3 separate regions of the Homo sapiens genome follow, and regions 1 and 3 are each linked to region 2. The links come from fine-mapping of genetic effects on gene expression. A gene starts in region 2. Each other region holds a variant in brackets. All regions are shown on one strand. Distances are from middle to middle.

Region 1 (8,184 bases), 46 kb before region 2:
ATGTTGCCTTGGAGTAGTATATAATCTTCTATTATAAGTCTTTTTCCTTTTCTGTTTCCATTCTCATGGCTCATACTCTATGCCTTTTTTTTTTCTTTTTTCTCTTTCTCTTCTATTTCCTTTAAATGCCTTACCAGAAGTTTATCTCTCTCTCTCTTCTGCTCTTTCTTTTTGCCATTTAAAAATGAACTTTTGGCTTTATATATCATTTGCACTGTGTCTTGTTCTACATTTCATTATTTATGGCTTTCATTTTTACAAATTGTTCCATTTGTTATTTTCTAGTCTACTTTGATATTCTTTTTATAATTCTTTGAATATTTACTTGGCTATGTTCAGTCATTCTTTTAAAATCCGGTCTTTTAAAACATCTACTCTTTTAAATTCACTGAGGTGTTGTGTTTTGGCCATATTCAGGAACTTGCATTTATAAAAGCATCCTCAAATTCTTGAAGGTTTCTTTAAAATTAGTTACACTATTTTCTCTTTTACTCCTTAACAATACAATTTTCAACATAATATTAATACATGCACTGCTAAAACTCACACTTATTGTTTATATTTCCCCTGATAAACAGATACTCATCGTCCCATGAAGTTTGTGGCTTGTGAGAATGAGATCACAAGTATCTTTCTTTAAAACCCATGAGTCTAACACCACATAAATTGCGCAGAGTGCTACGGAAAATTCAGTTACTTCATTCTATTTTGTGGGCTTCTGGCTGTAAAGGCCATGTCACTCTTCAAAGAGGCTGATATCCTGTAGCCTTGGGAAAAGGCAATGTCTCCTTAATGTTTATATTCACTAAAGTATCTTGCTCAAACCCTGGACACTGCAGATTCTAGAACAATATAGATTGTAGGTGTCTGGTGAAACAGTAGGCACTATAACTTAGAGAAATCATGGTTAAATTCATCTTGTGCCGAGCTTAAGAACTTAACCCTATCAACACGGACTCAGTACAACCCAGAATATGTCCCACAGGGGGTTATGTGGGGCACAGTATATATAACAGGGGGATATGTGTGGTCCAGGAGGTGAGAGAAGCAGGGAGAGAAGCAATTGTTGCATTCCTTTGCTTCTGCTGGGCGCTCTGTGATGCTATATATAAAATAAGGTAAGTGTGCAGTTGAGTGGGTAGGGAGAAAAGTGAGGCATCTTAAGGCCTGGTGGAGGGTGACTGATTTCATCCTGTCTTTGTTATGTATCTGAGAAGCAGGTTTATAACCAGTAACTGTCAGTGTTCAATATTTAACAAACTCCAGTTACACAGGTAAGAGGTCAGCAGTAGCTTATAGGTCTCACTTATATTATCCACGTGCCCAACTGCAGCCATCGTGGGCTAGTGCTAAAACTTTCTTTTGAATTTTCATTTTTCTAATAATTGCAATCAGTGAGAGGAGAAGAAAAAGTTCAAGGGAATGATCTGACCTTTCACCATCCTACACAGGAGATGACTGATGACATGGATTCATACACTAATGTATATCGTGTATTCTCCAAAGACCCTCAAAAATCACAAGAAGTTTTGAAAAATTCTGAGATCATAAACTGGAAACAGAAACTCCAAATCCAAGGTAACAAGTCTGAAGAAATGGGCAAGCAGCTGTGCTTCTCAAATTGTGTCTTCAACTAACAGCATTAGCATCACCTGAGAGCTCATTAGAAATGTAAATTCCTTGAAATTCTCAGAGCTGGGAGAGGTGGAGCAATCTGTGGTGTGCCAAGGACTATAGCTGATTGTGGTGTAAACTCAACTTTGAGAACTACTAAGCACTGAGGCATTAATCAGGTGTGAGCAGTGTAAGTAGAGAACTGCATGTCTGACAATATTGCTTTCTTGGCTTTCTCTCAGGTTTTCAAGAAAGTTTAGGTGAGGGGATAAGAGCAGCTGCATTTTCAAATTCAGTGAAGGTAGAGCATTCGAGAGCACTCCTCTTTGTTACGGAAGATATCCTGAAGCTCTATGCCACCAATAAAAGCAAGCTTGGAAGCTGGGCTGAGACAGGCCACCCAGATGACGAATTGGAGAGGTACAAAAAACATGTGCTGATCATTTATAATTGCTATTCCTTGTACATTTTTGTAATTCACATAAATCAGTTTTGGAATGAAGAGAGGATGAATTCATTCCTTGGGATGAATAAAGGTTGTCAGTGGTCAAAATACGCCACTTTGCAATGGTGGGTCTTTTAACAAGAAGAGGGCCTGGGATCTCTAGAATGGAAGGGCACCTAGAAATTACAGGAGTGGGGATGAAAGTTGTTGTCTTTCTTTTTGTTTTCTACAGCGAGACTCCGAACTTTAAGTATGCCCAGCTGAATGTGTCTTATTCTGGGCTGGTAAATGACAACTGGAAGCTAGGGATGAATAAGAGGAGCCTGCGTTACATCAAGCGCTGCCTAGGAGCCCTGCCAGCAGCCTGTATGCTGGGCCCAGAGGGGGTCCCGGTCTCATGGGTAACCATGGACCCTTCTTGTGAAATAGGAATGGGCTACAGTGTGGAAAAATACCGAAGGAGAGGCAATGGGACACGGCTGATCATGCGATGCATGAAGTATCTGTGTCAGAAGAATATTCCATTTTACGGCTCTGTGCTGGAAGAAAATCAAGGCGTCATCAGAAAGACTAGTGCACTAGGTTTCCTTGAGGCCTCCTGTCAGTGGCACCAATGGAACTGCTACCCACAGAATCTTGTTCCATTGTAGACAATGAAGCTGCTTAGCAATCTTGGGCAAGCCATCTCTTAATATTAAAGCAGACACCACAGAATAGCTTTCTTCACTTACAAATGTTGATTGGGCATTTGTGATATGGCAGGAACTCTTTCTCACATGGAGACTTGATGTTAAAGGACACAGCCATGCTCTTGAGGAGCTTACAATCCAAGCTGGAGGCAGGGGAGGGTATAGTCTTTAAATATGCTTAAGTGTTGTAGGGAAGGACAGAGTTACCAATAAACATGTAACTAGAAAGCCAGGCTCAGTTCTTACCTCTGGGAATCAGAACTCTTTATGAAACTTGGTTGATAGAATCTACTATCTGGAAGATAAATGAAGAACTTTAATAAAATTGTCAATAGAATATACCTAATCTATATGGATACTTTATTGGAAAGAAATACCCCTGTTATGTATGGATTTATGAGGCAATGGCTATACTAAAGAATGGAATCAGTCTCTTAGTTTAGTGTCTAGCAAGGTATCAAAGGTGAAGCCTCAGACAAATGGCTTTCTTAGGCTACCTTTCATCATTGTTATGCAGAAAAGGATCTCCAGAGAATCAAGTGGGCTGGCCTTGAGGCCTCTGTTATGGAAATGACATTTGTTGTGCCTCCTTTCCCCTACTCTTTCTCACTTCCTCATCATTAGTGAAGCATGGCACAAGATAAGGTGTTGCCTGTGAGTCTGGCTATAAATTCAGCTTACGATGTTTGCAGCACTGCTATCTTAAGGGGTCAAGGGCATTTCAGGGGGAAGTGACCACTAAGGTGAAGACTGGAGAGTGAGTAAGAGTGAGCCATACAGTAAAAGTGGAAAAATCCAGATGATGGAAAGGACACGTGCCATGCACTATCATAATAACTTTATAATTGAACACTTATATTACAATTTCTGAACCCCTGATCTCAAAAAAAAAAAGAAAAATACACTTCATGAAAAAAACGGGGCCTCATTTGGCTCCGCTCTCCCCCC[CT/C]GTCATTGGAGCTTGGATTACTGTGAACATTGTAGCCACAGCAAAAAGAAAAAAAAAATTGGCATTTTTACTCCTTCTGATAGTCTAGATTTTAAAAAACAAAAGAAATCTTAATAGAATTGTCTTTTGGAGTAAAGCCTACCAGTATTAATCAACACCTCATCTCTCCATAGAAAATAACCCCCCACAAAATTGAATGTTTATACTTGATGTGATTTGAAAGTGTGCAATTCCAGCACCTAAAGAATAGTGTAGGTCATGGAGTTTTTAAGAAACTCCAATTCATCTTAGAAGGCTGTGGTAGATCTGTTACCGCTTAGTATAAATCAATCCAATCAGATTTCTAAACTCCTGAGACCTGGCTGATTTGTTACATTGACTGAAATGAAAGCATGGTCTGAGAAAGAGAGTAAACATGTCATTTGGGATTTCAAAGGGTGGAAAATTCTTACCTAAAAAATAAACTCAGGAACTTGGGGTAATATAAAAACAGCTATATTTTGGCACTCAAGAGGCAAAAGCTAATATATGTGATGAAAGAACACAAAGCAAATAAAATTTGACTATTTCAAAATGATGCCTCGGGCAGGTCCTGTATCCAGAAGAGGATGTTCATCCAGGGTCTGGGGCTAAGGTCATCTTAGCACAGCCCAGCTGCCAGCTTCCCTCCTCTGCCGCTTCCCTGAACGCAAACCAGCTTCCCTTATCTAGCCCTTCGTGGACCTGTTAAAAAAGTGATCCCTAAACCTTATCATGCACTTGCATTAAAAAAACAACAAGAAAGCATGGGAAGGATGAAAGAGGATTTCTTAAATATGGCACAAGTAAGTCCAACATTATCAATAAACACACTAACAATGAATGGGGTAATTTTCTTATTAAAATATATGTTTTTCATACTGAGTTAAAAACAAAATCCAAGAAGCATACATCTCTGTGCCCTCACATGGTGGAGACAGAGGAGAGCTCAGACTCTCTTCCTTTTCTTAGAAGGACTTAATACCATCAAGGGGGCTCCACCCTTATGACTTAATCTAAACCCAATTACTTCTCAAAGGCCCACCTCCAAGTCCGTTGGGAGTTGGGTCTTCAACATATGAATTTGGGAGTCACCGTCAGTTCATAAGGAAGCATATCTGAAATAAACAACACACAAGGGTTCACGGAAAGGAAGAAGATATACTAAATGAACGTGAAACTGAAAAGCAAAGTAATACCATCAACACTTGGCAAAATAGAACGTAAGTTGAACATCTGCTAAATACAGAAATTCTCCCACAACATAGGTCATGAATCTGCCTCACAACACAACACAACTACAAACTATACATGGCAAAAGCTGACAGACATACAAAAGAAAAATGCAAATCCACAGTCTCAGTGGGAGAACTCAAAAAACTTCCCTCAGAAAGCAACAGATGATGCTGACAAAAAATAAAGACAATTTGACAAACTGCCATCACAACTTGCTATTTCTGGTGATGTTGGGGTTATCTGCTTATTGTGTATTTGAGAACTTCCCTTCATCTGCTTGTCAAACTGACCAGCAGGTGGTGCTGGGGAGGGAAACACTCCATCTGGAGAATGCTGGCAACTTGTCTCTTAAGTCTAGAGGCTCCTGGTCCCCCTCATGATCATCACCTATCAGGCACAAGCACTGCTGATACAGGAGCTAAAAAGAAATTATTAAGCAGTTAGTGTAGGTAAGAGAGTCCTCAGTAAGGTTTTTCTTTTAATAAAAAGCAGCCCCCATATAATCGCTTTTCTAGCGAAAATCAGCCTAAAAAATCAAGCCGCAAGCATGCTAAAAGCTTGCATAGGTAAATGCCGGCACCTATGCAAATAGAAAAGGGATACCTGGAAGTCAGGCGTACTCAACATAGAGGTTTCCTCTTCCTATTTTTTTTTTTCAGATGGAATCCTGCTCTGTCACTCAGTCTGGAGTGCAGTGGTGCATTCTCAGCTCACTACAACCTCCCCCTCCTGGGTTCAAGCAATTCTCTCCCTCAGCCTCCTGAGTAGCTGAGATTACAGGTGCCCACCATCACGCATGGCTAATTTTTTTTTTCGTGTTTTTTTAGTAGAGGCAGGGTTTCACCATCTTCGCCAGGCTGGTCTTGAACTCCTGACCTCTCGTGATCCACCGTCCTTGGCCTCCAAATGTGCTAGGATTACAGTCATGAGCTACCACGCCTGGCCGCCTATTTCCTTTTCTTTGTCTTCACTTGTGCAGGCGACACGGCACAGGCCAGGTAGAGGCCCCGTTTGCATACTAAAGATTCATGTGGGATGGCCAGGCTCTTCGTGCATCACATAAATAGCACACCTGCTCCAACCAACCCTCTGAGCCCTATGTAAATCAGACACTGCCTCCTCAAGCTCCTCTATAAAACCAACCACAACTCGCCCCAAACCCGGAAACCTGCTCAGGCACCCTTCCAATGCATGAGGAAACTCTCTCTTTGTTCTTTTGCCTATTAAACTTTTGCTCTTAAACCCACTCCTTTGGTGTCCACATCTACAATTTCCATACTGTGAGACAGCAAACCTCTGGCATTTCCCCAGACAAACGATGCCGCTTCACTGCCATCTCAAGCCCAAGTGCCAAAAATGACCACTTCAGCCTGAAGAATGCCATGGCTGCCACCATGCTGCTTAGGATAAGCAAAGACACAAAGATGAAGTGGGGACGGGTTTACTAGAGAGGCTGCAATAAAAGCATATCCCAGGCAACTTTCCACTTCTTAACTTCTGTCATTTTCAAACTTAAAGGTGTTTTTTTTTTTGTTGTTGGTTTGTTTTTCTTTTTAACAGTTTCTATTTCTGGCCAAAAGACTGCTCTTTGTTTTCCTGCTATGACATATTTATTCTTTGTTCTAAAGTCTTTTCCATGATTTCATATAGGAACTAAGAAGACAGCCAGGTGTTTGCTCAACATATTGATCCCCTCTCCACCTAGAACTCTCTTTACTCTTTCTCCCAGGAAGATTCCACCCCTCCTGTTCTGCCAGTTTCCTCATATTTGCCTCAGACAATTGCCCTTGTAGGCAGATGAACCCGGGCCAGTTCTACTTTACTATGGACACCAACTCTTCTGAAATAACATCTGAGTCTTGGGATTTGCATATGAATCTTCCCTTGACACAGCAAACAGTCTTTCCTTTTACCTTCACTAAAGTCATCTACTTGGGAGAATGGAGAGCACTAAAATTCTACAGATTTCAAAACCAAACCTGCTGTGCCTTTCCAGAGTCCTTGGAATGAAAAAGAGAAAATAGGTTAGAAGGGATATTTTCTCCTTCCTTCCTTACCCTGAAGGAGCTCCTATTTTTAAAGGGAATCATTGGGGACAATCCAAAAGAAACTCTTGCAAATCAAGCTTTGCCATGCCACCACGAGAAGGGTAACCTGTGTGCCCAGTGGTGAAATTTTTAAACTTTGGTAATGATCTCCAGGTTCACCCCTATGGATAACGAAAATATTTTAAGAACCTATAAGGGTGCCAACCTTTCAGAACCATGTCTCTTTGCAAGGACCTACCAAGGTCTAGAGATCATAGCACCTCACTAGCAGCCTACAGGCATTCTCCAAAGGTTCCCACCTGCCCCACCCAACACACACACACACACACACACACACTCACACACACACACCCTGCTATCCTTTGGCCCTAGATTTCACCTAACTTTGTTCTAAATCTTAATCTCCCTGTGCCCTCAAACTCATGTGTTATAGGGCCTTGGTAATCCCTTTCTAAGCATATTCCCTGACTTCTCAAATACTATTTATGAGACATATATCTAAAGTAAAACTATATTTCAGGCCAGATCAGCACGCTTCTTATTACAATTATAAACACTGAACTTCTTAGTTGCTGGGAAAATATATTAAAAAGGCATTATTATGCTTTTATAGCCATAGATTATCTAGGGAAAAGTATTGAGTGTCTCGAGAATGAGTGAAAATTCTTTCCCCAATATACACTTTTTTTCTTTTGCAAAGTATATCCTGCATATATTCAAAAGATAATGTTTTTCAAAAGGGGAAATTGCCTCCACTGTGGACTCTTATTAATTCACTTATCCCTCAAGTTCTCTTATTAACTCACTTATACATCATATTCCCTTATTAACTTTTTATTCAATCACTGGTATTTGTTTCTAGTGCTCATAATTGAACACAAATTTTTTTACTATTATATAAAATAAAGTAACAGCTATTCACCATTTCCTCCTTTACCTCAATAAGTTGATATCTTCCAATAGATTCATTTCCCTGTTTTGCTCCCTCCTCTGATCCAGACGAGTGTGCTAAGTGATACAAAATGCTTTTATTCCTCTACCGTTCAACCCCCTGAGACCGATGTTTTAGTTCCATGTGTTTTAGTTCCAGGTGTCACAGAATTTCCCTTGCAGTGTGTCGCATCCATTTAAAGAATCCTTCTTTAAAACTTTTCTTACACATTCCCAGAGAGCCTATCATTGTCC
Region 2 (8,184 bases):
GGCTCATGCCCTCTATGAGACAGTATTAGCGGGGGCATGTTCTTTACATGCAACGACAGAACCAGGACAGAGGCAAACATAAAGACGCAGTGGCTTTCAGGGTCGAGCTCAGCACAGTGTTAATTCTGTCTATATTCTACTGCCCAAAGCCCAACATTGATGGGGTGGAGAGCAACTGCAAAGGCACCTGGCAACCAGTGTGTGTACAGGGAAGGGGGAAGATCTGAGAACAATTTTCCACACTCGGCCACTGGTTCTTCCAATTCTCCAAGTACTTCAAACTAGATTAAACAGCAAACGTGTATTTAATATAGAATGTGTGTGCATTTTAATATATTGGATAGGCTATGAGACGTGACCTGGAAAAGCACTAGGCTTAGATACAATATTGCATTAAACTGCTCTGGGTCCATGAATGTGAGAATCATATTCATTCACCTCTGTTCCCCAATGTCCAGTACAATACCTGGCACAAAGTAGGAATTAACACATCTCTTAAATGAATGAAACCATGTGGAAATGATATTATTTGTGTACCTCTTCTGTCTTCCCTATTTGAGGGCAGGGGTCAACATTTTACCCTTCATAGAATGTGGCACCGGATCTTGTAAATTGCCACCCGAAATTTATACCTTGAATAGATTATTGGATTAATGAAAAAGCATTATACTAGGAAGAAGTAAGCCACTGTGCCTTTTTGCAGTTAGATCTGAGAGGCAGCCATCATTCAATAGAATAAGTTTGGCTTCTAGTTTCAGATGGGAATACAAATCCTCATAAGGATGTTTCTGCACAATTATTTGCTAAAGCTTTTTGTGAAATGGCGAAGATAATCTCACCTTCCCCACAGGGTTATTGAGAGTATTAAATGAAACAGACACATGTAAATGCCAAGCTCAGAGAGGAACTCAAAGCAGTACAGCAGCAGAGGTCATTTCCCTCTACACACTCCCTGCTGCTTCCGTGGGCAGACATAAGTGTTAGCCAGGCCAATGAAAGCAGTTAAGCAGCCAAGTTGGACTTTGCCAAGGGATCCCACACCACCACCACCCCTTTTAAAGGTTACTACAAAAGTAATCTTAAGAAAGTTTTATATATAATAACTGTGATATTTTTAACTTGATTGCACATCTTATCAAACAGGTATTGATTTTCAGTGCTTTCAATGATTAAGAATAAGGGCAACAAAAAAGAAAATCTGTGTATAATATGATGAACCTGGAATTTTTGGTTTCATACGTGTGTGTATATATATGTATATTTATGTATATATATATATATACACACACAGAGCAGTAATGGCCTTTAAAATAAATTCAAATAATGATAGAAAACAAAACATCTTCATGCATGGTGTAATCTTTTTCCTACAAGAAGGCCTTGTTTTAAAAATGTGCATAAGGTTATGCTTTTGCATATTTTATATAATTTCTTAAAGGTATGTTATCAAATTAATGTTTTCCAGCCAGGGTATCATATTTAAGGGTGATAGTAAATACTCCAAACACACCAGCTGTCACAAAATAATTATGCCTATGTCTATTATTGTTATCTGTTTCTCATAAAATTAATCATAAATGATATGAATTATTGATTAAAATTAGTGTTTATAGACTATAAACCTATGAAAAGCCACAAGAGCAGTATTTTTACATATTTTTCAAGAATTCAGATAACAGTGTAACCTTTGATTATAATAACAGAATTCATTTCTGTAGCAGAATTACAAATACAGCAATTATAAATATAAATGATACTCCGTTAAGTCCATCCTGCTTTTAACTGTGCAACTATTTACAGCCAGAGGCAGGAATAAAAAAGGGTGTATACGTGTGGAAGAAAATTCACTCCATGCTGTTTTTGACCTTGCGTGTAAAAAATAATTCATTACTATCAAAAGAGGCATTTTCCCAAATAAAAACAAACAAGGAAACAAAAACACAGGAAAAAAAAAAAAACTACTTACTGACCGTGACTTAAGTGTGGAGGAAAAAACCCTTTGCAGCTAATGTTGGCAAAAGTGTGTCCCCCGTAGATTTAGTCTAAGAATTAAGAAACTGGCCGGGCGCGGTGGTTCATACCTGTAATCCTAGCACTTTGGGAGGCCAAGGTAGGCGGGCTGCCTGAGTTCAGGAGTTTGAGACCAGCCTGGGGAACATGGCGAAATCCTGTAGTCCCAGCTACTCAAGTGGCTGAGGCATGAGAATCGCTTGAACCTGGGAGATGGAGGTTTCAGTAAGCCAAGATCATGCCACTTCACTCCAGCCTGGGTGACACAGTGAGACTCTGTCTCTAAAAAAAAAGAAAAAAGAAAAAAGAAAAAAATAGCCTGTTTAATGAAGCATTGACAAGGAACCCAGGCTATGATTATAGAATAGGAGCTTCATAGTAATTGTAAGAACTCTGGTTCTTAGAAGACAAAAGTTAAATTTAATAAATAAGTTTAATGGCCAAAATATCTTTTTAAAACTTGTTTGTAGTCTTTAGAATGTGAATTTTATTTGGTTTAGATCTTACTAAGCTATATTTTGTAACTGAAATTAATACTTCATTTTTGCCTGAAATTAGTAGAAAAAACAATAGCTAAAGTTTGCTACAGATAAATAAATGTCAATATTAGACTTTTTTTCTTTTGAAAAGGTAGGGAACTTTAATTAGTAATATAAGTTAAGAAAATGACAAAGATGTCAGATAATGAAGAAAAAATGTGACAGTAATCTTTCATCCAAAAAAAGGTTATGTTCCTATTGTCTAAAGCCAAAATATATTTCATTGCAAATATATATAAAGTTTAAGAATTGTTATTTTAGGCCCTTTCCGCAATAAGCCAACACATAACTTATCATGCCATAAATGTTTTTAAAAGAAATATGATTAAAATTATACAAAACGACATAAAAATTTCAGAAAGAATATTGATAAATATCTTGGTACATAGTAGATTTAGTTGCACAGATATTAGGTGGTACAAGTTTTATATCTTCTATAATAATAACTTTTTATTATCTCCTTGTGCACTAATATTTCAATATGTCAAAGTCATTTGAATAACCTTTCTAGTAAATCTCAACTTCGTAGATTGAAAACTTTTTTAAAAGCTTTATTTAAGTTTAGTGGTACATGTGCAGGTCTGCTATATAGATAAACTCATGTCATGGGGGTTTGATGTACAGATTATTTCACCACCAAGGTATTAAGCCTAGTACCCATTAGTTGTTTTTCCCGATCCTCTCCCTTCTTCCATCCACCACCCTCCGATAGGCCCCAGCGTCTGTTGTTCCCCTCTGCGTGTCCATGTGTTCTCATCATTTAGCTCCCACGTATAAGTGATAATATGCAGTATTTGATTTCTGTTCCTGCATTAGTTTGCCAAGAATAATGGCCTCTAGCTCCATCCATGTCCCTGTACAGGACATGATCTCATTATTTTTTATGGCTGTGTAGTATTCAATGGTATACTGAGTTTTCTTTATCCAGCCTACCACTGATAGGCATTTAGGTTGATTCTTTGCTATTGTGAACAGCGCTGCAAGGAACATACGTGTTCGTGTGTCTTTATGAAAGAATGATTTATATTCCTTTGGGTACATACCCAGTCATGGGATTGCTGGGTTGAATGGTAGTTCTGTTTTTAAGTCTTTGAGGAATTGCCACACTGTTTTCCACAATGGTTGAACTAATTTACACTCCCACCTAGTATATAATCCTTCCTTTTGGAAACAAATTTTATCAGTATATTCAATTCTGAACACCCATGTTTTAGAAAATGTTAAGCCTATTGTCCTTTAATCACTATTTGCTTACACATTAAAATGTAAAACAGGCAAAAGAGAAAGAAGGAAGAAAGGAGGGAGGGAGGGAAGGAGAAAAGTGAGAAAGAAAGAAAGATAAAAGAAAAAAGAAAGAAGAAAGAAAGAAAGAGAAGAAATAAAGAGAAAAAAGAAAGGAAGAAAGGAAGGAAGGAATGAAGAAGAAAAGAAAAAAGAGAAAGAAAGAAGGAAAGAAAAAGAAAAAAAGAAAGAGAAAGAAAGAAAGAAAGAGAAAGAAAGAAAGAGAGAGAGAGAGAGAAAGAGAGAGAAAAGAAAATTTTCTCCAGATTAGAATTATTGGCTGCTATTGTTTGGATGCTGGGTACTAGCTGTGATTACCCTTTGTGAATGTAGGAATGCACAGATTCCAAAAGTGAGTCTCATAGAAAAAGTCAGCATTCAAATATGTTTTAAGGTTACTCTATCCAAACCCCAAAGAACCCACAGAAGATGAAGCAGTAATTTTAGCTTCTCTTGGTGTATTGTACATGCATTTAAGGCCAGTTCCTTCCTTCAAATTCCCATGTGTTTTGTAGTTACCAACACACCTTTCAACCCTATCTGTTTATATACATCATATAGTCCTCTGTCAATTGCATAAAAGTTGTCCCCTTTGTGACTGTAATCGCCTTTTCCAATACACATCTACTCAGAATGCAGGTCCTTAAACAGCAGGCTGCCTTGAAAACCCTCTCCAATCTTCTTCGATCATCAGCTTTGAGATGCATATTCCTAGAGCCCATATCATCTTCTTCATCACTATCATAAACGTCTCCACATATTGATGAACGTTTGGAGAATCGATTTATGACAAGGGAGTTTACTCTTCCTGCATCCGCGGCTTCTTCGTGATTTTGTCCTAGTCACCGGGCCTATCCCACCTGCTGGGGATGCCGCCCCCTCGGAAGTGCCTGAAATCTCCCCACTTACCCAACTAGCCTCAGCGCCTCCTGTGTGCTGCAGCAGATGGCGCGCTGCAGACCCCAGCCTGGTGCCTCCGCGACTCCTCCCCAACCATGATTTACAGGCGGGGACAGCCACATTCCTGCGCCCCAACTTCCACCTCCGCTTCCTGCGCGCGCGAGACTCAAGCTGCCACAGTGGCTCTGCCGCCAGCGTCCCAGCTCCTCCCACACCCGAGTTTTTATTTCCTGCTCCCTCTCCAGCCCGGCCCAGGCCAGCCTACCGGCGACTAGGATGCTTTCGCTTTCGCTCTCGCTTTCCAATACTCGGGACTGGGGAAACCGGGAGAATAGAAGCAGGCAAGGACCGCCGTGGGCACGGGGTCAGTGAGACAGGGTCCTGCTCGCGGCGTCAAGGAGGAGCGCTGTGGGTGGGTAGGGTAGGCGCGCCCCCTCGGCCTTGCCTTTCCAACCACTCTTTTTTGCACGCCAACAGGTGTCCCCAGCGCAGCCAATCGGCTTCCGAAGTAGGTGAGTTGCTGCCTGAAGAGAAAAGACAAACTCCAGTATCTTTCATTCCATTGGCCAGACGCGCCATTCCCCAAGTGAGTTCTGTTCTCCAACCAAAGTGCTGGATTCCAAGGGACTGGAAGGGAAAGTCCCTAAAAATCACGAGTTCAGGCGTCTGAGACTTGGTGGGAACGGACCTTCCTCTTAGGTGAGTTACTCTTTGGTTCTGGGGCTGACCTGGAGTTTTGCCAGGATTCATTGGCCGCAGCAGGATGCTGGTGGGGACAGGGTAAATAAAATCTGCACTCCTGCGGGCTTTTATTGTTGAAAGGGGCACTGACGCTCTCCCTGGAAACTTAAAAAGAACAGCCAAGTGAACGGATGTGTCTTTCTTTTGCAGTGCCCAAGCCTGTTCTAATTTTTAAAAACTGATGTCTATTAAGACCCAATGTTAACTTTATGAAAATGGTTCCTAAGGAGATTCACATCTCTGTGTCCGAATTCTGTGTGCAGCAAACATCATCTCAAGTGCGTTTTCCCAACTACGCTTCTTTCCAGGATAAAATACTCTAAGTGACAAATGTTGAGTACATTATCAGGTATGTTCACTATTGTGAGAACTGAAGCCATCTACACTCACATAGCTTGCCAACTACATTAACCTGACTTCTTATTCCATTATTTTCATCAACATACATTTACTATTTCAAGAAACTTTTGCCAGGGACCGGAAAGTTGCAAATATCTTTATTGCTTAATCCAGTATCTTCTTCAAAGATCCAACCACTCTTCAATGGAAAACATCAAAGAACAGTTTACATTCTAAGACTTTGAACCTTTACCTCAAAATCCTAGCCTTGTTTTATCTACCAATCCTAAACTTTTACCCGTAGCTGACTCAATTCTAACCAATTCCCCTCATTAAATATTAGACTTACAATGGGACTTCAAAATCTCAATACATATAGCCCAAACTTGCTCTTCCCTCTCTGAGACACCACTTAAATTCTGTCAAGTTATTGTTCTCCATTACCTAAGTGAGCAAGAAACTTAGCTTTGTCTTATCAACAGGTTGCTTTGATATTACTGGGAGCCAACATTTGACATTCTTGGAGGCTCCAGCAAGACCTAATCAACCTCCCAACCCTCAACTCAGAATCAGTGTGTGCCCTGAAGTCCCTTCAACCTTCTTGAGGCTCTCCCTGATCTCAAAGGTGGAGAAAGTAGATCTTGCATCAGGTTGAACTCCAGTTTCTTTTTGCTCAGTTTTTCAAGCGCTGAGTTTATTTTGTCCCTAGGCATAAAGAAATCTTTCTAGGAACCCCTTTGGTTATGGGACCAGATTTTTAAAAGCTTTTTAGGCTTGGTGAAAAATCTGCCTTATCACTAGCAACACTACGACTTGTCTCTGTTCTTGTTTTTTGTTGTACTCGTGTAAAAGAAAAGTTCAAGGGAAGAGAACAGGCTCAAGTCTACTTCTCACGCTGGCTCTGGGGATTAGGAAATTCAGAAAGTTTTGTTTCAGACTGGCAGTGCTGTCTGATATAAACACAGCGTCAAGTACTGCACGCTGTAGCTACCTGAGGTTTAGGCCGGAAGAGGCACGGCTGATTTAAAAGTGAAAGAAAGTAACCAATTGGTTCGCAGACAACCTTTTCCCAAAAGGCGGGCGATTCAAACCCCTAGCCCCACCTGCTCCGTTTCCCGCCCAGCTGGAGCTCTGGAGCCTTTGCTTCCTCAAATACGAGCGGGAACTGCGTTGAGCGCTGGATTCCAGGCCGAGTGCTGGCGAGGCGCGCAGTGAGTGAGCACACAGGGCGCTGGGGTGCTCCGCGGGGCGCGGTCACGGGCGCGGCCGCGGCGGGCTCGAGTCCCGGCTGGGAGGAGAAGGAGCTGGGTGTCAGGAAGCCGGGGACTGACAGCGCCACCCATCTGGGGAGCCGGGAGGACACAGGTTTTATTTTGGTAGTGCTGCAAGTCCCCTTGTGTGCTGGGGGGAGCGGGGCGGCGTGGTAGGATTGGAAGAGGCTTAGAGTTGGCCTCGACCCCTGCCCTTGCCCCTGGAAAGGCAGAAAGTGGGGGTTGGGGTGCGGAGAAGCAGGAAGAGAGGGAGAGTGAAGGAGGGGAGGAAAGGGAGAGAGGAAGAGGGAGAGTGAAGGAGGGGAGGAAAGGGAGAGAGGCAGAGAGGGGGAAGGAGAGAGGGAAGGAAGGAGAGATTGAGAGACAGAGAAATTCCTAAGGGGAGCTGTCAGGTGGGCTGGACATGGGCCCCAGGCTGCACTGCTTTATCCCTTTGCTGTAGGAAGTCAAGCAAGTTCTTTAGGTAAGTAGAACCTTGATGTCAAGTATAAAACAGGGGTTGGTATAGGATAGCTAAGAGCACTTTATATTTTGATATAATCTGATTTATCCTGGATACTGAAAACAATGTAGGGAGACGGAGGATATTGGAGTGTTTTCTTAACCTCTTGCCCCTTTCCACTGTGATTGCTCAAGTACATGCAAAATTAATGTTTCTTTCTGCCCATTTTATTTTCCTTTTTTTGTCTGTGTCTATTAATCATTCCTAAAGCACCCGGATCCTCTCTCAAACTTCGTAAGATGAGACATCATGAACAGACACAGTGAATCCCTAGATTTTCTTAATAGTTGGGCAACAAGTTCTTGCATTTAGGGATGTTGCAACATAGCCCAGTTCCGCAATTGTACATTTTCTATTTTTTTTCCTAGGTTCTCTGCTGTTTAAAAAGTATCCCTGTGGTGAGTGTATTGATATTGATAACATTTACATGACCTTTTTATTGATTATTTACTGGGGGACCTATTACATACAGGCAGTGTTTTAAAGGCTTTGCATATGCTCTCTCTCTCTCTCTATATATATATATATTTACACACACTGTATATATAGATAGATTGCATATATAATATATATAATATGTGTGTGTATGTGTGTATATATA
Region 3 (8,184 bases), 24 kb after region 2:
TAGAGCTTGTTCAGTCTTTTCAGATTTATGCCCCAGCTGTCTCTTCCCAGTGGAGTTGTATAGATAGTGCTATTTCTCCCAGCCACAATGTGTGACAATACACATGAAGTATCATCAGCCAGGGAAGCTCACCTGAGCTTCAGTGTCAGGGTTTTTACTGGGGGCTATTCATGTAGATATGGCTGACCTTAGTCTCCAGATCCTCCAGAAGTGGTGCTGATAATGTGTGGTCCAAGTCCACCACTATAAATATTAAATAAAATAGACTTCAGATCAGAGAAAATTACCAGAGACAGAGAGTGCTATTATATAATAATAAAAGGATTGATCACCTAAAAGACACAGTAATTACAGGTGTGCAAGCACAAAACAACAAAGTGACAAAATATGTTAAGCAAATCCTGATATAACTAAAAGGATAATAGGCAAATCCACAATTATAGTTAGAGAACTCAACATCCTCCTCTCTCAACAACTTATAGAACAACTATACAGAAAATCAGCCTGGATATGGAAGAACGGAACAACATGATAAACCAACAGGGTCTACTGGTCATTTATAGAACACTTCATCCAACAGTAGAGTACACATTCTTTTCAAGCACCCACAGAGTGAATACAAAGATAGATCATATCCTAGGCCATGACACAAACCTCAACAAATTTGAAAGAGTTGAAATCATATTGAGTGTGTCCTCTGGGCTACAATGGGATCAAACTAGGAATCAATAACCTAACAATAACAGAAAAACCTCCAAACATTTGAAAGCCAAACAGCACACTTCTCACTTCTTTCTTTCTTTCTTTCTTTCTTTCTTTTTTTTTTTTTTTTTGAGACGGAGTCTCACTCTGTCACCCTGGCTGGAGTGCAGTGGTGCGATCTCGCCTCACTGCAAGCTCTGCCTCCCGGGTTCATGCCATTCTCCTGCCTCAGCCTCCCAAGGAGCTGGGACTACAGGCTCCCGCCACCACGCACAGCTAATTTTTTTTTTTGTATTTTTAGTAGAGACGGGGTTTCACCTTGTTAGCCAGGATGGTCTCGATCTCCTGACCTCATGATCCTCCCACCTCAGATAGTGCGTAGGTTAAAGAAGAAGACTCAGGAGAAATTTAAAAAGACATTGAACTGAATAAAGGTGAAAATAAAGCGTCTCAAAATTTGTGGGACACAGCCAAAGCCATGGTGAGAGGAAAATCAATAGCACTAAATGCTTACATTAGGAAAGAGGAAAAGCCTCAAACCAATAATATCAGCTTTTACTATAATAATCTAAAAAAAGAGCAAAATAGGTAGCCAAATTAAGACAATAATAAAGATAAGAGCCAAAATAAACAATGAGTTGGTTCTTTTGAAAAAAAAAATACATGAAATTGACATACTGCTTAGCGAGACTGGCAGGGAAGGAGGGAAGGAGAAAGGGAGAGGTGGGGGGAGAAAACCAAATTGCCAATAACATCAAGAATGAAGCCATGTTATCACCACAGCCCTTGAAGATATCAAAAGTATAATAAGCACACATTATGAACAACTCCACACATAAATTTGACAACTTGTATAAAATGGACCAATCCCTTAAAAAATACAAATGACCACAACTCATCCGATATGAAATAGGTAATTTGAATAGCGCTCTATTAAGGAAATTGAATTTGTAATTTAAAATCTTCTGAAAAAGACATCTCCAGGGCTAGATGCTTTTACTGGACAATTCTATCAAACTTTTAAAGAAGAATTAACACCAATTCTATACAGTCTGTTTCAGAAAATAGAAGAGGGTAGAAAACTTCCCAATTCATTTTTATGAAGCTAGTATTATTCTGATACCACCCCTCCCAAAATGAAAGTATTAAAAGACAAACTTTAGACAAATTTAATTTAACAGAATTTTACAGAGCAAAGAACAATTCGAGAATCAGGCAACTCCACAGAACTAGAATAGATTGGGAGACACTCCAACACTGCCACTTAGTTGAAGATAATTTATGGACAGAGAAAGGAAAGTAGCTTAGAGAAAATGAAAGTGAGGTATAGAAACAGCAGCCTTGTTTCTATACAATAAGAGAGCAACTCAAATATCTAGGAGGATATTAAATGTTCCCAACAAAAAGAAATGATAAATGTTTGAGGTGGACGTATATGCTAGTTACCCTGATCTGATCACTATATATTATATGTATCAAAACATCACTATGTACCCCATAAATATGTACAATCATGTGTCAATTTTAAAATACAATTTTAGAAAGTATTTTGAAATAAAAAGTTTAAAAAAGAAGAAAAAAGAAAAGAAAAGAAACAGTTGCCTTGGCTACAGCGCAGCATTTACCTTGTTTGAACACTATTGGAACAGTTGGCCTCCTGTGAGTGGTTGAAGTATTGCTTCTGTGATTGGCTGAGACTCAGGTAGTTGCTACAAAAGTAGGCTAGTCTGTTTCCACATTCGGTTAAGTTATAGTTCACTATGTATTGAGAAACGTTTAGGTTAAACTTAAAGTATGTAAGGAGGTAGCTTTAGGCTAAGCTTAATTTAACAAAAGAAAGAGAAAAGAAAACTATACACCAAGATTCTTTATAAATATAGACCACCGCCAATTTTTTTTTTTTTTTTTTTTTTTGAGACAGGCTCTTCCTCTGTCACCCAGGCTGGAGTGCAGTGGCTCATCATAGCTCACTGTAACCTTGAAATCCTGGGCTCAAGGTACCCTTTTGCCTTAACCTCTGAAGTTGGACTACAGGTATGCACCACCATGCCCAGCCCCCTGAAAACTTTAACAAATGAAATATAGCAATATTTTATAATAATTATACACTATGACAAAGTGGGGTTTATTCCAGGGATGCACATCTCATTAAGTATTTGAAAATCAATGCAATCCACCATATTAGCAGTCTGAAGAAACAAAATCTCATGATCATATCAATTGATACCAAAAAAGCATTTAATAAAACTCAATATCTGTTCATGATTTAAAAAACTCTCAGAAAAATAAGGATAGAGGAAAACTTCCTCAACTTGATAAAGAACATCTAAAATGAACACCTACAGCTATTATCACAGTTCTTAGTGAAAAACTAGATGTTATCTAAGATCAGAAACAAGGCAAGAATGTCTATTCTCACAACTGTATTAAACATAGTACTGGAAATTCCAGGTAATACAATTCTAAGTAAGGCAAGAAAAGGAAATGAAAAACATAAGGATCGGCCGGGCGCGGTGGCTCACGCCTGTAATCCCAGCACTTTGGGAGGCCAAGGCGGGCGGATCACGAGGTCAGGAGATCAAGACCAT[T/C]CTGGCTAACCCAGTGAAACCCCGTCTCTACTAAAAATACAAAAAATTAGCCAGGCGTGGTGGCGGGCGCCTGTAGTCCCAGGTACTCGGGAGGCTGAGGCAGGGGAATGGCGTGAACCTGGGAGGCGGAGCTTGCAGTGAGCCGAGATTGCGTCACTGCACTCCAGCCTGGGCGACAGAGCAAGACTCCGTCTCAAAAAAAAAAAGAAAGAAAGAAAAGAAAAGAAAAGAAAAGCATAAGGATCAGAAATGAAGAAACAAAATTGTCCCTATTTGGAGATGACATGTAAACTCCTAAGGAATCTATAAAAGAACTCTTAGACCCAGATTTGGACTCCTTAGCAAGCTTACAAGATACTAAATAAACATACAAAAATCCATTGTATTTATATGTACCAGCAATAAGTACGTGGAACCAAAATTAAAAATAGAATGCCATTTATTAATATAATCACTCTGAAACAAAATGAACTACTTAAGTGTACATTGAGCAAAAAATGAACTGGATAGGTATGCTGAAAACTAGAAAACACATAAAACAAAGAAGATCTAAATAAATAGAGAAGCATATCCATATCGTGTTTATGGATTGGAAGACTTAACACAGTAAAAATATGTCAATTCTCCTCAAATTGATATACAGCTTCAATGCAATTCCTATCAAAATCCCAGCAAGAATTTTTGCACATATAGACAAGATTATTCTAGTATTTATGTGGAAATCAAAGGATCCAGAATAGCCTAAACAATTTTGAAGAAGAATAAAGTGAGATGAATCAATCTACCCAATTTACAATAAGACATTACATAGCTTATTAATACAGCTTATTAATCAACATTGTGCAGTAGTGGTGAAGGGACAGACATATAGGTCAATGGAACAGACTAGAGAAACCAGAAATAGATCTACACAAATATGCCAGACTGATTTTTTTACAAAGACTCAAAAGCAATTCAAAGGAGGAAGAAAAGCCTTTTCAACAAATAGCGCTAGGACAATACATCTATAGGCAAATAAACACATAAAAAGACACTCAAACCTCACTCCATACACAAAAATTTAACTCAGAATGGATTGTAGATTTACATGGAAGTTGTAAAAGTATGAAAGTTTTAGAACAAAACAGAGGAAAAAAATATTCAAATCTTAGGACTAGCCAAAGAGTTCTTAAAATTAACATGGGAAACAGAAGCCATTTAGAAAAAAAAAATTTGGTAAGTTGTATTTTATCAAATTAAAAAACTTTTGTTTTGTGAAAGACGCTATGAAGAGCATGGAAAACATAAGCTACAGATTGAGAAAAAATATTTTCAAACTATATATCCACCAAGAGTATTTATTTATTTATTTATTTGAGACTAGGATTCACTCTGTTGCCCAGGCTGGAGTGCAACATCACCATCACAGCTCACTGCAGCCTCAACCTCCCAGACTCAAGCGATCCTCCCACCTCAGCCTCACAAGTAGGTGAAACCACAAGCCTGCACCACCGCGGCCAGCTAATTTTTGTATTTTTTGTAGAGACAGGGTTTCCCCATGTTGCCCATGCTGATCTCCAGCTCTTGAGCTCAGGCAATCGAACTCCTGACTGGGCTTCCCAAAGTGCTAGGATTACAAGCTTGAGCCACTGTGCCCAGCCCAATATTTAGAATATAAAAAGAACTCTCTAATTTCAATAATAGAAAACAGAAACCAGCAAAAGACCTGAACAGATATCAAAGAGCATATATGGCAAATAAACGCATGGAAAGATGTTCAACATTATTAGTCAATAAGGAAACAAGTTAAAAACAATGAAATAACTCTACACACTTACCAAAATGGCTAAAATAAAATATACTGACCAAAAAATGATGGTGAAGATGTAGTGACCAGATCATGGGTATATTGCTGGTGAAAATTCAAAATGGTGCAGCCACTTTAGAAAACTGGCAGTTTGTTAAAAAAGCTAAACATGCAACTACCCTATGACCTTGCCATTGTACTCCTAGGCATTTATCACAGAGAAATGGATACTTTACCTTCACACAAAAACCTGGATGAGAGTGTTCATAGTAGCTTTATTCATAATAGCCCAAACTAGAAACAACTTATATGAACTTCCATGGATGAACAGTAAGGTGGTCCATGGATACTATGGAACACTACTTAGCAATAAAAAGAAACAAACTTCTCTTGATACACACAACTTGGATGAATCTTTAGAGAATTAAGCTGAGTGGAAAAAGCCTATCTTAAAAGATTGAATGCTCTATGATCCATTTGCATAATATTCTTGAAATGACAAAATCATAAATATGGAGAACATATTAGTTATTGCCAGGAGTTATGGACAGGATGGTAGTGGGGAGGAATTAGTGGGTGTGACCTTTTAGGGCAACATGAGAAATCCTTGTGGTGTGGAAAATGTATATTGTATACAAAATGTGTATTGTATAATGTGTGACACAATGGTATTATATCAATAATGGAGCAGAATTGTAACCATTCTGTATCTTAACTGTGTCAATATCAGCAATGGTATTGCACTATAGTTTTCCTATAGTTTTATGGGATGTTGAGGATACACAGGCTCTGTCTGTTTCTTATAACTGCATGTGAATTTAAATTATTTTAAAATAAAAAATTAAAATGCAATGCATCTTCTGCCTGGCTTTTTCTCTTGCCTCTCGTTTATTTGGAAACTAACTTCTGTGTTGTGAGAATGCCCATCAATCACATGGACAGGCCATGTGTAGGTACTTGGGCTGATAGCCCTAGTTGAGTGCCCAGATAACAGCCAGTATCAAGCAGTAGACTTATGAATGAGCAAACCTACAGATGATTCCAGCCACCTGCTTTCCTGAGAGCTCCCTTGAGCTAATGCTGTGTGTAGCAAAGACCAGCTGTCCTTGGAAGCCCTCCCCAAAGTGCAGATGTGTTTGAAAAATAAACGCTTGCTGCTGTTTTTAGCCACCAGTTTTAGGGTGCTTTATTACATAATAATAGGTAATTGAAAAAAAAAAGGGCTTTGTCTATGAACATTCCACAGAAAAAGAAGAGAAGCGGCTTTTTCACTGAATCTTTGTGTTAGACAATGACGACCTTTTTTGAAGTATCATCAAATTGTACCTTTGAACAGTTCAAAACTGGCTTCATAGTCTCAATTAGTGAGGTTTTATTATAGCCATCATATGTTCAAATTAAAAATTTGGCATATCATTTGGTTAAAGATTTTTATGCCACTTATGAGTACAGGAGACAATTTGGGAGATATAGTTTGGATACTAAAATGGAATGTCGGCCAGGCACGGTGGCTCATGCCTGTAATCCCAGCACTTTGGGAGGCCAAGGCGGGCGGATCACCTGAGTCCGGAGTTCGAGACCAGCCTGGCCAACATGGTGAAACCCCATCTCTACTAAAACTACAAAAATTAGCCGGGCCTGGTCACAGGCACCTGTAATCCTAGCTACTGGGGAGGCTGAGGCAGGAGAATCGCTTGAACCTGGGAGGAGGAGGTTGCAGTGAGCCGAGATCATGCCATTGCACTCCAGCCTAGGGGACAAGAGCAAGATTTTGTCTCAAAAAATAAATAAATAAATAAAATGGAATTTCTGAGATTTTCAGGGTTTATGGTACAGATTATTTGAAATTAGGATTGTGTTAGAAGATCTAAGAAATGTATATACATATATAATAATTATTTATACATAATTATAAATTATTATTTCTAATTGGGTCATGATAAACTATAAATTATCATGGATTATTAAAATACAAATATTTTACATCTATAATTTACTATTAATGTCAAGTCATACACACACAAACACGAGGGGACTTCCAAAAGTTTGTGAAAAATAAAATTAAAAAACAAAATAAAAAATGTACACTTTATTTCTCAACATAAGCACCATCAAGTTCAAGATATTTTGTAGGTGATGATATGAATCATTTAGTCCATCACTAAAGAACTGAGTGTCCTGGGACCCTAACCATATCAATGCAGTTTTACTTTACTATAGAAAAACAGATGCTCTTTAAAAAATTTTTTAAGATTAGGAAACAAAAAGAAGTCAGAGGAGCCAAATCAGGACTGTACAGCAGATTAAAAGATTTTCCATCAAATTGCTCACAAAAGTGCGTTTGTTTGATGAGAGGAATGAGCATGAACATTGCCATGGTGGAGAACGACTCTGGTGAAGCTTTCCCAGGTATTTTATCCTAAAGCTGTTGCTAATTTTTGCAAAATACTCTCATATTAGGCAGATGTTATTGTTCTCTGGCCCTCCAGAAAGTCAGTAAGTAAAATGCCTTGAGCATCTCCAAAAAATTGTTGCCATGGTCTCTGCTTTTGACCAGTGCACTTTTGCTTTGACTGGACCACTTCTACCTCTTGATAGCCATTGCTTTGGTTGTTCCTTGTCATCAGGATTATACTGGTAATGTTTCATCTCCTGTTACAATTCTTCAAAGAAATGTTTCATGATCCTGATCCCACCCATTTAAAATCTCTATTGAAAGGCCTGCTCTTGTCTGTGGCCAACCTGGGTGCAATGGTTTTGGCACCTATCAAGGAATGGAAAGTTTAATTTCTTTGTCAGAATTGTGTAAGCTGAACCAGTTGACATATCTATGGTGTAGGCTATTGTTTTGACTGCTAATCCTTGATCCTCTTCAGTAAGGGCATTGTCTTACCCTTCTTAGTGTCTCAAACTAGATCCTGTTCAGACATGTTATAACAAGTTAGTATGAGTTTATTTGGGTGCAAAAAAACAATTTGAACTACCAGCCTAGTTTTTTCATAATATGCATTTTCCATAAAATTTTAAAGACCCCTCTCATTTGTGTGTATATGTGTGTATGTGTGTGTGTGTATTCACTTCCTCTTGCAAATGAATCAGACTACATAC

The links. PIP is the estimated chance that this variant, and not a neighbour inherited with it, causes the effect.
Region 1: its variant is fine-mapped to the expression of FAM111A in tibial nerve (GTEx, PIP above 0.99). The same link has a PIP of 0.9 or more in sun-exposed skin and tibial artery.
Region 3: its variant is fine-mapped to the expression of FAM111A in whole blood (TOPMed, PIP above 0.99).

The regions. Positions count from the first base shown.
Region 1 is chr11:59,092,078-59,100,261 of GRCh38, forward strand. It overlaps GLYATL1B (glycine-N-acyltransferase like 1B), which reads left to right. Exons shown (of 5, transcript NM_001355566.1): 3 at 1,452-1,578; 4 at 1,857-2,034; 5 at 2,292-2,709. The coding sequence ends at 2,709. It overlaps LOC105369315 (a long non-coding RNA gene), which reads right to left. Exons shown (of 3, transcript XR_007062680.1): 1 at 5,555-8,184; 2 at 5,242-5,369; 3 at 4,177-4,833. Among named protein-coding and RNA genes, the nearest start is that of GLYATL1B, 9.9 kb to the left of the region's middle. RefSeq lists enhancers at 2,969-3,560, 5,683-5,852 and a silencer at 4,960-5,069. The variant CT/C (reference allele first, on the strand shown) is at 3,697.
Region 2 is chr11:59,137,876-59,146,059 of GRCh38, forward strand. It overlaps FAM111A (FAM111 trypsin like peptidase A), which reads left to right and starts at 4,981. Exons shown (of 6, transcript NM_001312909.2): 1 at 4,981-5,071; 2 at 5,208-5,429; 3 at 5,622-5,820; 4 at 7,952-7,981. FAM111A-DT (FAM111A divergent transcript) reads right to left here and starts at 4,933. Exons shown (of 4, transcript NR_110184.1): 1 at 4,740-4,933; 2 at 2,082-2,292. It also overlaps the pseudogene LOC100422399. RefSeq lists enhancers at 4,749-5,198, 6,567-6,676.
Region 3 is chr11:59,161,883-59,170,066 of GRCh38, forward strand. No RefSeq gene overlaps it. Among named protein-coding and RNA genes, the nearest start is that of DTX4, 6.2 kb to the right of the region's middle. The variant T/C (reference allele first, on the strand shown) is at 3,291.